Linked DNA regions of Homo sapiens: region 2 is linked to region 1. A link means that fine-mapping ties the variant in region 1 to the expression of a gene that starts in the linked region. Tissue or cell type: whole blood. Region 1 holds a variant in brackets; the other region holds the start of a gene. All regions are shown on one strand. Distances are between the middles of the regions.

What was found. PIP is the estimated chance that this variant, and not a neighbour inherited with it, causes the effect.
Region 2: MHENCR starts here. The variant in region 1 is fine-mapped to the expression of MHENCR in whole blood (INTERVAL, PIP 0.93).

What each region holds. Positions count from the first base shown.
Region 1 is chr20:63,593,748-63,601,603 of GRCh38, reverse strand. GMEB2 (glucocorticoid modulatory element binding protein 2) reads left to right here. Exons shown (of 10, transcript NM_012384.5): 5 at 3,744-3,847; 6 at 5,837-5,994. Among named protein-coding and RNA genes, the nearest start is that of HELZ2, 23 kb to the right of the region's middle. RefSeq lists an enhancer at 3,629-3,798. The variant A/G (reference allele first, on the strand shown) is at 4,293.
Region 2 is chr20:63,623,421-63,629,871 of GRCh38, reverse strand. MHENCR (melanoma highly expressed competing endogenous lncRNA for miR-425 and miR-489) reads right to left here and starts at 2,637. Exons shown (of 2, transcript NR_132417.1): 1 at 2,480-2,637; 2 at 1,048-1,682. It overlaps GMEB2 (glucocorticoid modulatory element binding protein 2), which reads left to right and starts at 2,771. Exons shown (of 10, transcript NM_012384.5): 1 at 2,771-2,916. RefSeq lists silencers at 2,330-2,779, 2,870-3,409.

The DNA of each region.
Region 1 (7,856 bases):
CCAGGAGTTCAAGAGCAGCCTGGGTAACATACTGAGACCCCAGTTTCTTCTTAAAAAAAAAAAAAAGAAAAGAGAGCATGAGTAAAGCATAAGTAGATTCTGCAGAAACACGACTAGAGATAGGATTGAAGTTCAACACTTAGTGGATAGGTCTTCAGCAGATTAGCCATAGCTGAAGAGAGAAGTAGGACTTGTAAATAGAAATAAAGCAATTTATTCAGGAAGCACGAGAGTCAAACACATCTATTTGAGTTCTGGAAGGAGGAGAGAGAGTCTGAGAACTTTCATAACTGAGAAAGAGTGGTCCACAGTGCAAGGGCCCTGACTGACCCCAGCCTGGATGAAGACCCCACTGCCTGCATGTAGGGTGGCTTTTAGCATCCAAATAAATAGTGATAGTCATGGGTCATCACTCGAGTAAAATAAAATCTATGAGTCTATATACCTATCTCCATATATTTCATGTTATTTATTTATGTTAAATAAATGCATAGAGAGAAGTAAAGCATGGGAGGAATGATGGGGTCAGAGTCATGAGCGGGTGCTCAGACTAGTTTCAGAGCATCCCTGTAAACCATGCAGCCATTGCAGACGTAAGTCGTAGCTGTGGTGGGAAAGCTGGCAGGTGCCTCCTTAACCCAGCGATCCATCTTCACATCATCAGGCTCGGGACAGACCTCCCCTTTGAGCCTCCTGATGCAGTGAGCAGGTCTGTGGTGTTCTTCCAACAGTTCATAGCCTGACTCTACTCATGAGAAAACAGCAGACACTCATGGAGAGACAGCCTACGTTAATACCTGACCCACAAGCTCCAAAAACGTCAAGGTGAAGAAAAACACAGACAGGCTGAGAAGCTGCTCCGTCTTTTTTTTTTTTTTTTTTTTTTGAGATGGAGTCTTCCTCTGTTGCCCAGACTGGAGTGCAATGGCGCGATCTTGGCTCACCGCAACCTCCGCTTCCTGGGTTCAAGTGATTCTCTTGCCTCAGCCTCCTGAGTAGCTGGGACTACGGGCACCCACCACCATGCCTGGCTGATTTTTGTATTTTTAGTAGAGATGGGGTTTTGCCATGTTGGCCAGGCTGAGCCCGAACTCCTGACCTCAGGTGACCTGCCCGCCTTGGCCTCCCAAAGTGCTGGGATTACAGGCGTGAGCCACCGCGCCCGGCCTGCTGCAGTCTTAATGGGGACAAAAGCCGAAGAGCAAGGCAGCTGCATGCTCCACAGTCTTGGGCTGGATCCTGCATCAGAAAAAAATGTAGGCTGGGCATGGTGACTCACGCCTGTAATCCCAGCACTTTGGGAGGCCGAGGCGGGTGAATCACCTGAGGTCAGGAGTTCGAGACCAGCGCAGCCAACATGGTGAAACCCCATCTCTGCGACAAATACAAAAAAATTGGCCAGGCATGGTGGCATGTGCCTGTACTCCCAGCTACTCGGGAGGCTGAGGCAAGAGAATCTCTTGAACCCGGGAGGCGGAGGTTGCAGTGAGCCCAAGATTGCACCAGTGCACTCCAGCCTGGACGACAGAGTGAGACTCCATCTCAAAAAAAAAAATTTTTTTTTTGCAATAAAGGCTATCATTGGAACAATTCATGAATTTGACTATGGACAATGGATTAGAGAATAATGTATGAATGATAATTTCCTGATGCGAGTTGTTCTGTGGCTGCGTAAGAGAAGCTTGTTCTTAGGAAATATACACAAGTGTTGAGGGCCCAGGGGCCCGACGTCTCTGCTTCACTCTCAGTAGCTGCACGTGCACAGGTCTAGGCGGGGGCAAGGGGGCAGACGGGAGCAGGCAGTGAGTCCGGAACGCACGTGTGAGAGCTCCCTGGACTATCCTGGCAATTACCCTGTGAGTTTGAAATTGTATTAGAATTAGAAGTTGGAAACACGAAAGAAATGTACCATAGGTGACATCATAATGAAATTCCAGAAGGACGGGGACAGAGAAGATCCTCAGTCTAGCCAGGAGGAGAGACGGATCGCTCAGTAGCAAGAATCCCGCCGGCCGTGAGCTCCCGAAAGCAGCGCAGGAGCAGAGGTGGCAGCGCCAGAGCCTCACTGTGTGGCGAGTGACGACACCGTGAGGTCGTCTTTGAAATTATGCTGGAAGAAAGACGTTTCCAGAAAAAGACACGAGTTTGCCACCAGCAGATCATGATGGAAGGATGTTCTAAATATGCATTGCAGGCGGAGATAGGAGGCCTCCAGATGGAAGCGCTGTGCTGTGAGGAGGTGTGAAGAGTCGGGGAAACGTGGGTCACCCGACCAGTCCTGTCTATTCAGCATCGAGAGAGACGCCCTGGAGGGCCTCAGAGATGAGAGCAGGGCCACGTGGCTGTGGTCTGGAGGGTCAGGAGCGGGCCGAGTTAGCTCCGGGGGGTCAGGAGCGGCCACGTTAGCTCCGGGGGGTCAGGAGCGGGCCGCGTTAGCGCTGGAGGGTCAGGAGCGGCTGCGTTAGCTCTGGGGGGTCAGGAGTGGCCGCGTTAGCTCTGGGCTCTGGCAGCTCTGGTAAGCGTGACATGCTGAAGCTCCTGGAGCCACTCATGAGAGTACAGCATGTAGCTTCCTAGCTGGGAGAGGAAAACCTGGGGTGAGAAGAGTAACAAAGGTGAAAGCAAGAAAGGAAAGAGGCAGGCCTAGGAGGGGCAGGGAGGTGAGGCTGGCTGAGCCCAGAGCCCTAGGTAGGATCAGGCCCTTTGGGTGCAGTTGAGTTTCCTAGGTGTGAGCCACGTTGGGTAGAAGTGATGGCCGGAAGCAGCCTCAGTCACAGCCAGTGCAGCCTTCCTGCCAGGCTCCGACAGTGGCCAGAGAATCTTCTGGATTCCACCTTCTGGACTTCTATGGGATCTCCCTGATCAGCCGCATGAGGGAGAGCCAGAGACTGGCTGGGCTTAGTGTTCCCGTCTGTGGCACAGGGGTCATGAGAGGGTGGGCTCAGGGATTGGGAACATCACTTCCTTCAGCAAGCTAGACTTGGGCACGGCCCGGGGGTGGAGGCGGCCCCCGTACTCGGGCCTCCTGGGTCCAGCTGCAGAGACCTCGTGACTCCTCCATCCCCAGCCTGCTTGTTTTCTAAGTAAATGCAGTTTTATTCCAGTTTTTGGTTTCAATAATTGCTTGTGTAACAAGATTGAACAGGATATTTTACCTTCTCAGTTTCTCTGAGCTCCCACATGGGTGAAATTAGCAAGCAGGAGGGTTCCCCTGGCTTAGAAACAGATGAGTGTGTGTGTGTGTGTGTGTGTGTGTGTGTCAGAGTGAGAGCAGGTGCCGGTGTTTGCTGCACGGGGCAAGGTGGTGTCAGGAGGGACCTGAGGAAGGTGGCGTTCACAGCTCCACCCATGTGCTGGCATCTGTTGCCATCTGCGATGTAACGTATGCAATAACGTGTATTTATAAAATACATTGCACAGAAGCAGTTTGCTTAGTCTGCCTGGAGGAAGAGAAGGCCACACACCTTCTACCTGGTGTGGTCAGCCCAGCCCTGTCTAGCCCCAGGCACACAGCAGCTCTGCCCCCTCAGGGCTGGAGGAGACACCACTCCCCACTGCAGCCACCGTGCCTGTGGGTCATGTCCTTGTTTTACCTGAATGCTCTGTAGGAGGCCTGCACCGGTCAGAGCCGTGCCGTGGCGCTTTTCCTGCCTTGCGCGCCTGACTCAGGGTCGGATGGGAGATGGGGGCACCCTATGTGGTGTCCCGGCCAAGCTTGACCCACATGACTGTGTCCCCCACAGTACGACGAGCATGTAATCAGCCCAAAGGAATTTGTGCACCTGGCCGGGAAGTCCACCCTGAAGGACTGGAAGAGAGCCATCCGCATGAACGGCATCATGCTCAGGTGGGCGCTGGCGCAGGGTCAGCCTCCCTGCTGGAAGGGGCCCTGGCAGCTCTTGCTTTCTTGTGGGGTTTTGGGATTTTGAAGATGAGGCGTATTTTAGATGTGGTGAGTGCTGACAACCTCCCGGGTGGCTGCTGCACCTGCTCACACCCAAAACTGTAAACCCGTCTCCCACACTCCTGCCAACAGGGACACTATCAGATTTTTAGAATTGTTTTGTCAGTCATTTTAATTTCCACCAATTCTTTACCTGAAGGCACTTGTGACTGTTTCAGCGTTGTAAAATAAAGGGTTGGCTGGGCACATGGCTCACACCTGCAATCCCAACACTTTAGGAGGCTGAGGCAGGAGGATCACTTGACGCCAAGAGTTTGAGACCAGCCTGGGCACAATAATGAGACCTCATCTCTACTAAAAATAAAAAAAAAATTATCTGGATTTGGTG[A/G]CATATGCCTGTGGTCCCAGCTGCTCGAGAGGCTAAGGTGGAAGGATCACTGGAGCCTGGAAGTCAAGGCTGCAGTGAGCTGTGATTGTGCCACTGCAATACAGCTTGGGTTACAGAGTGAGACTCTGTCTCAAAAAAAAAAAAAAACAAGAATAAAAAGGAAAAGAAAAGGGTCTGTTCCAATTATGCATTCTGAAAATAAAAAATAAAAGAAAGGTATAATCTGGTATTTGTGCATCAGATTTTGGCCTTTTATGTTACTCCTTATTTCTGTCCTTTCTTTCACTTTTTTTTTGAGAGGGAGTCTTGCTCTGTTGCCCAGGCTGGAGTGCAGTGGCATGATCTTGGCTCACTGCGAACTCTGCCTCCTGGGTTCAAGCGATTCTCTTCCTCACCCTCCCCAGTAGCTGGGTTTACAGGTGCTCGCCAGCACACCCGGCTAATTTTTGTATTTTTAGTAGAGACGGGATTTTGCCATATTGTCCAGGCTGGTCTCGAACACTTGACCTCAGGTGATTGACCTGCCTCAGCCTCCCAAAGTGCTGGGATTCCAGGCATGAGCCACCGTGCCCGGCCTTCACTTATCTGTGAATCATAAGCCTCAGTCTCAGTCTTTGTGGGCCTGGCCTCTACCTTGCTTCCCAAGGAGGGCCCCTGCTTTGTGCTGGAGTCAGAGTTTGAGACCTCACGAGTGACTAGCCCTGGGTCCTTTCCCATGGCTCAGGTCCTTTCCCTGTCCAGCTGAACTGGCCTCTGATTTTCTGGAACGTGGCTGGTGGCACAGCTGTGGGGACCACCGGCCAGGTAGGCAAGTCCTGAGCTGACCACAGAAGCATTAGCCTGTGTGTGCCTGAGGTCAGTGCTGCCCAAAGATTGAATGAGGCTGGAGCCTCTGACCCTCGTTTCATGGGTCGAGGCAGGCTCGTTGAGACACACAGGACTGAGACCCTGGACCTCCGGAGAGGCAGAAGAGAGGGCCCTGGGAGGGCGGCTCTCAGCAGTTTGGGCCGTACGAAGCCTTCCTGGTAAAGATGAGGATGAGCGGCAGCCATGGCCGTTGGTGCTGTCCTGCGCCCTCATCACTCTTCTTGGCTGTCTCTGTGCCTTTAGAAGGAGGAAGGTTCTCCTGGAAGTGATTTCCCACCTTCCTCTGCTTCAGAATGAGTCACGCATGATGCAGGTGGACTGGGCCCACCTTTGTTAGCTGTGGGTCACTCCCTTGGGGCTGGGGTAGTGGGACATCCCAGAAAGGCCCAGCCCCACAGACTCTGACGGGCACCTCCAGGACACCCACTGGCCAGCGCTTGCCCCCTTCCTGGGGACAGTGCCGTAGCGTGGGCCTGGGCCGGCTGCTTCTTCAGCAGCAGGGTCCTGCACGCCGAGCTCGCGCTAAGAGGGAAGTAGAGCCCACCCTGCCCTGTGGAGCTGCCAGCGCCTCTGCTAGGCCTGCCCCACGCAGGTGGATGGCCCAGGTCAGGGTGGGCGGGCCAGGTGCCTTCGGCTCTGGGGCCGACCTGGACGCTCCATGCCACTGTCTGTCACAGGAAGATCATGGACTCCGGGGAACTGGACTTCTACCAGCATGACAAGGTCTGCTCCAACACCTGCCGCAGCACAAAGATTGACCTCTCAGGAGCCCGTGTGTCCCTGAGCAGCCCCACGTCGGCCGAGTACATTCCCCTCACGCCCGCCGCAGCCGACGGTAGGTGCACAGGGCTGCTCGTCCTGACCCAGCCCCACCCTGGCCATGGCCACAGAGGGTGACATGCCCCTGGGTGGCCTCCTTGGCCCCAGGCGTTTGCTCACGCCAGGACTGCCGGTCTCCTGCCTGGGACCCTGAGTTGTCTGGGATCAGCCTCCTCCTGCCTCACAGAGGAGATCTGGCAGAATTGCTGCTTTCATTGACAAGGAAGATTGAAGCACTTTTCTTTTTAAGCCATTTTGGTTGTAATATAATAACTCACGTGTGGGGAAGGGTATAGCGAGTAACAGAGAGTGCCTGGGCGCCCACCCGGCCCCCTCCCTCCCACCCCCACGGCCCAGCCCCAAATCTGGACCCGCTTCCCTCCTGACCTGGCGGTTTACGGAACTGCGCGCCTGTGCTCCCGCCTTCCGTGCTGGGTGCCTTGCTGCAGGTATTCCTGCCACTTGGGTTTTTGGGTGACGCTTTAGATACTGTTCCACGTTGGTGTCTGTAGCTCTAAACTGTGGAGAGGTTGTTCCCTAGAATTCTTTCCAGCTTTATGAATAGAGAAATTTTTCTTAAAACTACAGTTAGGCTGGGTGTGGTGGCTCACACCTGTAACCCCAGCACTTTGGGAAGCCGAGGCGGGTGGATCACTTGAGGCCAGCCTGGCCAACAGGATGAAACCCTGTCTCTATTAAAAGTACAGAAGTTAGCCGGGTGTGGTGGTGCATGCCTGTAGTCCCAGCTACTCAGGAGGCTGAGGCAGGAGAATCGCTTGAACCCAGGAGGCGGAGGTTGCAGTGAGCTGAGATCGCTCCACTGCCCTCCAGCCTGGGCGACAGTGTGAGATTCCATCTCAAAACAAAAAAACTGAAGTTAAAGTGAAGTTAGGTCCTGGGCTCCCTGGTCACATCTCTGGGTGGTCTTTGGTGATGTGTTTCCAGCAATGCCACATGCATTGTCCCTAAGCTGCCACTCCGCATTGCTGGCCAGATTGTGTTCCTGTGTGCCCAGGGACGTCCTTGTTGTTGGCCCAGGTGGGACCCAGTTGAGTCCTGTCCTGTCCCGCTGGGTAGGAGAGTGAGGCCAGGGCACTAGGGAGGCCTCACCCTTCTCCTGGGCCCCCTTCCACGTCCTGCTGGGGCAGCCTGGCAGGTTCAGTGCTGAGTCCTGAGAAGCCCAGGACACTTGGGCTGCTGTGGTCAGAGGGGCTGGGTAGAGCCCAGCCTCCTGTCTGTCCTCCCCAGGGCCTCCCCAGCGGCTCCACCGCGTTAGTGTTGGCCCTGCCTGACCGCCTGCCAGGGAAGGAACTGGGCCTTCCACGCCCTGTAGTCAGTGCCTCACAGCTAGGCTGAGGCTCAGCTCTTCTGAAGATGATTTGGGTTCTTTAACCTGCAATCTCTGAGAACCATTGACTTGGCTACTGTGCAGTTAGTAAAAGATGCTGTGCCAGCCCCAACTCGGAAAAACGACTCATTCACGCCCCAAATAATTCCAGATGTGTAATATGAGTCATACTCACCACTGCCATGTCTTTGATGAATGTGGAAAAGGCCAGTATTCCCAAAACATTCAACTGCTTCCAGGTCGTTGGTGGTGGTGTTGGAGAAGGAGTCCTGCTCTGTCGCCCAGGCTGGAGTGCAGGGGCCTGATCTCGGCTCACTGCAACCTCTGCCTTCCGGGTTCTAGCGATTCTCCTGCCTCAGCCTCCCGAGTAGCTGGGATTACAGGCGCACGCCGCCACACCCGGTTGACTTTGTATTTTAGTAGAGACGGGGTTTTGCCGTGTTGCCCAGGCTGTTCTCGAACTCCTGACCTTAGGTGATCCACCCGCCTCAGTCTCCCAAAGTGCCTGGATTACAGGCGTGAGCCACCAC
Region 2 (6,451 bases), 29 kb before region 1:
GTTCCAAGCAAAGGGGAATTACAGCGACAGATGGAATGAAGGTCACTGGTCGGCGGACTCTGACAGGAGGTGCCCTGGGCCAGCTGGTGGCCCCATGTCATCACAAGGGGCCTTGACAGCAGATGAGGGAGGCAGGAGATCAGTGTCGGGGCCAACAGGGTGAGGACTCAACTGGCTTTGGCTGGCTTTCAGGTGTGGGATAGGCCACGAGACAAGGGGCTCAAGTGCTTCCAGAAACTGGAAAGGCCAGAACAGCTTCTCCCCTGGAGCTCCAAAAGCAATCGGCCCTGCAGACACCCTGATTTTGGCGGAGTGAGGCTGGGCTGGACTTCCGACCTACAGAACAGTTAGAGAATACATTTGCAGTTTTATTTATTTATTTTTTGAGACGGAGTCTTGCTCTGTTGCCTAGGCTGGAGTGCAGTGGCGCCATCTCGGCTCACTGCAAGCTCCGCTTCCTGGGTTCACGCCATTCTCCTGCCTCAGCCTCCCGAGTAGCTGGGACTACAGGCGCCTGCCACCACGCCAGGCTAATTTTTTGTATTTTTAGTAGAGAGGGGGTTTCACAGTGTTAGCCAGGATGGTCTCTATCTCCTGACCTCGTGATCTGCCCGCCTTGGCCTCACAAAGTGCTGGGATTATAGGCGTGAGCCACCGTGCCGGACACATTTGCATTTTTTAAAAAGAGACAGTTCTGGCCATGTTGGTCTCGAACTCCTGGCCTCAAGCAATCCTGCCTTGGCCTCCCAAAGTGCTAGGATTATGGGCGTGAGCCTCCGCACTCAGCCTAAATTTGCATTTTTAAGCGACTAAGTTTGAGATAATTTGTTATGCCAGCAGAAGAAAGCTAAGTTATCTTGGAGGTGATTTTTCTTTTTTTTTAGATGGAGTTTCTCTCTTGTTGCCCAGTTTGTCTCTTGGAGCCCCAGAGTGAAGGAGGCAGAACAGGCCCCAGGGCTCACCCCAGGCCGACCTCGGTGGGCTTGCGCAACACACAGGCATGATGTAGCCACCCTCCCATCCCCAGGCCCCCCTCAGCACTCCTCTTCGACTTTATTGACATTTATTTCCAAAACGTGACGATAGGCAAACTCAGATAAATGACACACATAGACCGCGTGAACCCTCTCATATTTACCAGATAATAAAATAGTAGCACTGACAAAGGCTCAATTTTTTTTTTTATTCTTCCCCAGAGACAGGCTCTGTTGCCCAGGCTGGTCTTGAACTCCTGGCCACAGGTGATCCTCCCACCTTTGTCTCCCAAAGTGTTGAGGTAAAAGGCATGAGCCACCGCACTCGGCCAATCTAATTTTTAAAAACACCTTTTCCTCACTGGCTGGAGCACGTTCTACTTTACTGGGAACTGAATGAATGTGCAACTCTAATTACAGCCCCTCCGAAGTGCAGTGGCTTGGGAACCTCCCGTTCCGGGAGGCGGCCTGCAGAGCCCTCCTCCTACAAGTGTGAGCACAGGGTCAGGGTTCCATCCAAGCGAGCACCTGCTTCCTATTTTCCGACTAATTTCGGTCCCCTGATACGGAATCCGGGATCCTGCAGACAGGCAGCGGGTGACAGCAAGCACAAGGGTGTTCGATGACACCTGGAGAGGTCAGGAGAGCCAGTCCTGCGGTGCAGAGGAAGAAACCCAGCACAGAGGCCAACAGAGCCAGCCCCAGCCTCTGCCAATAAAACATATAAATGAGCCCTGGGGGCTGGAGGAGGGCCACAGGATCCAAGCTGGCTGCCGGATCCGAGTGGGATCGGGGTGCCGACTGTGGGACATGGGTGGGATGGGGTGCCGGCTGCGGGACTCGGGTGGGATCGGGGTGCGGGCTATAGGACTGGGGCGGGATCGGGGTGTCATCTATGGGATCGAGGTGCTGGCTATGGGACTGGGGTGGGATCGGGGTGCTGGCTATGGGACTGGGGTGGGATCGGGGTATCAGCTATGCTATGCGATCGGGGTGAGTGCCGGCTGTGGGATCGGGGTGCCGGCTGCGGGACTGGGGTGGGATCGGGGTGCCGGCTGTGGGACAGCGGTGGGATCGGGGTGGGTGCCAGCTGTTGGGCTGGGGTGGGATCGGGGTGCCAGCTGCGGGACTGGGGTGGGATCGGGGTGCCGGCCGTGGGACAGCGGTGGGACCGGGGTGTTAGCTATGGGATTGGGGTGGGTGCCGGCTGTTGGGCAGGGGTGGGATCGGGGTGTCGGCTGTGGGACTGCGATAGGATCGGGGTGCTGGTTGTGGGACTGGGGTGACAGCTTGAGGGGTGACCGAGCCCTCCCGGCCGCTCCCGGATGCCCCTCGCCCTCCACGCTGGGAGCGCCGTGGCTGGCTGAGCCTCTGGCATGTTCCGCGTGAGTCCGCGCACCCTACAGCGTCCTCCTCCACAGCCTCGTGTTCAGGCGTCCGCCCCGCAGGGGAGTCCCCTCGCGCCCATTCACACACAGCAGCGTCCGGGCGAGGAGCGCCCGTACCTGGAGGCCTGAAGGTACCGCCCTGCCGCGCGTGGGCACTGCTCCCTGGCGCCGTCCGTCCACTGACCATCGTCCCTCGGCCCGGCCGCCCGCGCGGGGCAGGCAACGCCCGACCGGGGGCCTCGGGGACCAGGAGGAACCTGCGGCGTTAGGAGCTGACAGTGTCGGTCCGCGCACGCGCCCCGGGGCCCGTCGGGCCTTATTTCACGGCCCCGCCTTCCTCCTCCGCGAGCGCCAAATAAGTGTCCGGCCCTCCCAGCCCCGTGCGTGCGCGGCCCCGCCGCCTGCGTCACTAGGAAGCGCGCGCCCGCGCCGCCGCCGCCGCCGAATCCCCAACAAGGAGCGAAGCCCGCGGCCGCCGCCGCCGCCCGCCGCCGCCGCAGCTCCCGACGCCGCCGCCCCCGCCGGGTGCCTAAGCAGGCCCGGCGCGGCCCCAGGTAAGCGGCGCCGGCGAGCCCGCGGCCCCCCCGCGGCGAGGCCTCTCGCTCCGCTCACGCGCCGCCGTCCAGTCAGGGGTCCCTGCGGAGCGTCAGGACGTTACGGCGGGGGGAGGGGAGGGCCGGGGGAGGGGCGGCCGCGCGGGCGGCGGCGTCAGGCGCAACGGCGGCGTCAGGCGGGCGGCGCGGGCGGTGGCGGGCGCGGGCGGCGGCGCTTCCTGCCTCCATCTTGGCGCCGCGGGCGGGCGCGGGCTCGGCCTCCAGCGGCCTCCTCGGTGGACCCATCCCGGGGGGACCACGCCGCAGGGGTGCGACCCGCAGGGACCACCCCGCAGGCACCCGACCCGCAGGGACGCGACCCACAGGGACCACCCCGCAGGCACCCGACCCGCAGGGGCCACCACGCGACCCGCAGGGGCCACCCCACAGGGACGCGACCCACAGGGACCACCCCACAGGGACGCGACCCACAAGGACCACCCCGCAGGCACCCGACCCGCAGGGACGCGATCCCCAGGGGCCACCCCGCAGGCACCCGACCCGCAGGGACGCGATCCCCAGGGGCCACCCCGCAGGCACCCGACCCGCAGGGACGCGATTCCCAGGGGCCACCCCGCAGGCACCCGACCCGCAGGGACGCGACCCATAGGGACCACCCCGCAGGCACCCGACCCGCAGGGGCCACCCGGCAGGCACCCAACTCGCAGGGACGCGACCCGCAGGGATCACCCCACTGGGACCCACTCTCAGGGACCTGACCTGCAGGGACCACCCCACAGGGGCCCGCGTCACTGTAGGCTCACAGGCGGGACCTGGATCTGTGTAGACCCATGGTGGTGTGGACCCTGTTGGTCGGAGCTGATTTGTTGTGGGCCCGTCGTCAGTCATGGCATGTTATCTATTTGGTTACTGTGTAATTCATGCGTGACTGAAAAGTCGTGACTGACTTTTCTGTTGAACCAGAATTCTCTTTCTTTGCTAACACTTCAAATACAACAGTTTCAATTACATCAGTGTTGACCGTGCCGGTCAAGAATACTAGTTTAAAAATATTTTCTTGGGCCAGGTGTGATGGCTCACACCTGTAATCCCACCACTTTGGGAGCCCGACGTGGGCGGATCATGAGGTCAGGAGTTTGAGAGCAGCCTGGCTAACACGGTGAAACCCTGTCTCTACTAAAAATACAAAAGTTAGCCGGGCGTGGTGGTGTGCACTTGTAATCCCAGCTAGTTGGGAGGCTGAGGCAGGAGAATTGCTTGAACCCAGAAGGCAGAGGTTGCAGTGAGTGGAGATGGTGCCATTGCACTCCAGCCTGGGTGACGGAGCAAGATTGCGTCTCAAAAAAAAAAAAGTAAAATAAAATATTTTCTCATATCTGATTTACCTAATAATTTGGAAACTCACTTCACACTAGTGGGGAACCCAAGCCTTGGGATCAAAGCTGGGTGGGTCTTGGCTTCAACACAGAAGGGGCTGTGGAGAGGCCAGGTGTAGTGGCTCACACCTATAATCCCAGCACTATGGGAGGTCAAGGTGGGAGGATCACTGGAGGTCAGGAGTTCGAGACCAGCCTGGCCAACATGATGAAACCCCGTCTCTACCAAAAATGCAAAAATTAGCTAGGCGTGTTGGGTGCCTGTAGTCCCAGCTACTCGGGAGGCTGAGGCAGGAGAATCACTTCAACCCGGGAGGCGGAGGTTGCAGTGAGCCAAGATTTTGCCATTGCACTCCAGCCTGGGTGACAGAGCGAGACTCCATCTCAAAAAAACAAAGAAGGAGCTGTGGAGAGAGGAGGGGGTGCTCGCCCTTGGGAAGGCAATAGGGCGAGGTGCTCTATTCTATAGTGCTTCTTCTGTGTCTAAAGAGCATTGTATCAAGGACTTGCACTATTTTCTGTGAGGTAACTTTTGTGCATATTGCTTTGAACCTTTAATATAGTTGCCATTGGAGGCCAGGCTCAGTGGCTCACGCCTGTAATCCCAGCACTTTGGGAGGCAGAGGCGGGCGGATCACGAGGTCAGGAGATCGAGACTGTCCTGGCCAACATGGTGAAACCCCGTCTCTACTAAAAATACAAAAATTAGCCGGGCGTGGTGGTGGGCGCCTGTAATCCCAGCTACTCAGGAGGCTGAGGCAAGAGAATCGCTTGAACCCGGGAGGCAGAGCTTGCATTGAGCCGAGATCGGGCCACTGCAGTCCAACCTGGGCTACAGAGCGAGACTCCGTCTCAAAAAAAGAATATATGTATGTATGCAGTTGCCAATGGAGAGGCTGGAATTCAGTTTTGTGCGTGTACATTGCGTAATCCTCTGCAAAGCCCTGAAGCTGTGACGAGGACCCCTGCCTGCAGTGAGGCTGTTGCCTCTTTGCAGCTCTCTGCTTAAATGACTTTAGTTGCCCCTGCTGAGCTTACCCTTATGAAAGCAGCGTCTCCTCAGTGAGAGTTAAACCCCGAGAAGTCAGCACGGGAGATCAGTAGTATTTTAAATGAAATTTTTATTTTTTAATTTTAATTTTTTTTTTTTTGAGACAGAGTCTCGCTCTGTTGTCTAGGCTGGAGTGCAGTGGCACAATCTTGGCTCGCTGCAACCTCTGCCTCCGGAGTTCGAGAGATTCTCCTGCCTCAGCCTCCCAAGTAGGTGGGATTACAGGCACCCGCCACCATGCCCGGCCAATTTGTTTTTTTTTTTTTGTATTTTTAGTAGAGACAGGGTTTCATCATGGTGGCCAGGCTGGTCTTGAATTCCTGACCTCAGGTGATCCACCCGCCTCGGCCTTCCAAAGTGATGGGATTACAGGCGTGAGCCACCACGCCTGGCCAAATTTTTGAATTTTTTTTTTTTCTGAGACAGGGTCTTGCTCTGTCGCCCAGGCTGAAGTGTAGTGGTGCAGTCTTGGCACACTGCAGCCTCTGCCTCCCGGGTTCAAGCAGTTCTCTCACTTCAGCCTCCTGAGTAGCTGGGATTACATGGGCACACCACCACGCCCAGCTAATTTTTGTGTTTTCAGTAGAGACAAGGTTTTACCATGTTGGCCAGGCTGGTCTAACTCCTGACCTCAGGTGATCTGCTCGCCTCGGCCTCCCAAAGTGCTAGGATTATGGGCGTGAGCCACCACACCTGGCCTGAGTAAAATTTTAAAGTGGCTTTTTTTTTTTAAGAGAGAGTCTCACTCTGTCACCCAGGCTTGAGTGCAGTGGCATGATCTTGGCTCACTGCAACCTCTGCTGCCCAGGTTCAAGCGATTCTCCTGCCTCAGCCTCCCAAGTAGCTGAGATTACAGGCACCTGCCACCGCGCCCGGCTAATTTTTGTATTTTTAGTAGAGACGGGGTTTCACCGTATTGATCAGGCTGGTCTTTGAACTTCTGACCTTATGATCCACCCGCCGCGGCCTCCCAAAGTGCTGGGATTACAAGTGTGAGCCACCGCGCCCGGCCTAAAGTGGCTTTTTATTCATGTTTGTTTAAAGTTCTTTATTTTGAAGCCTAAGTCTACAACAACAAAGTTATGCTAGTGAAAACATTATATTTGAG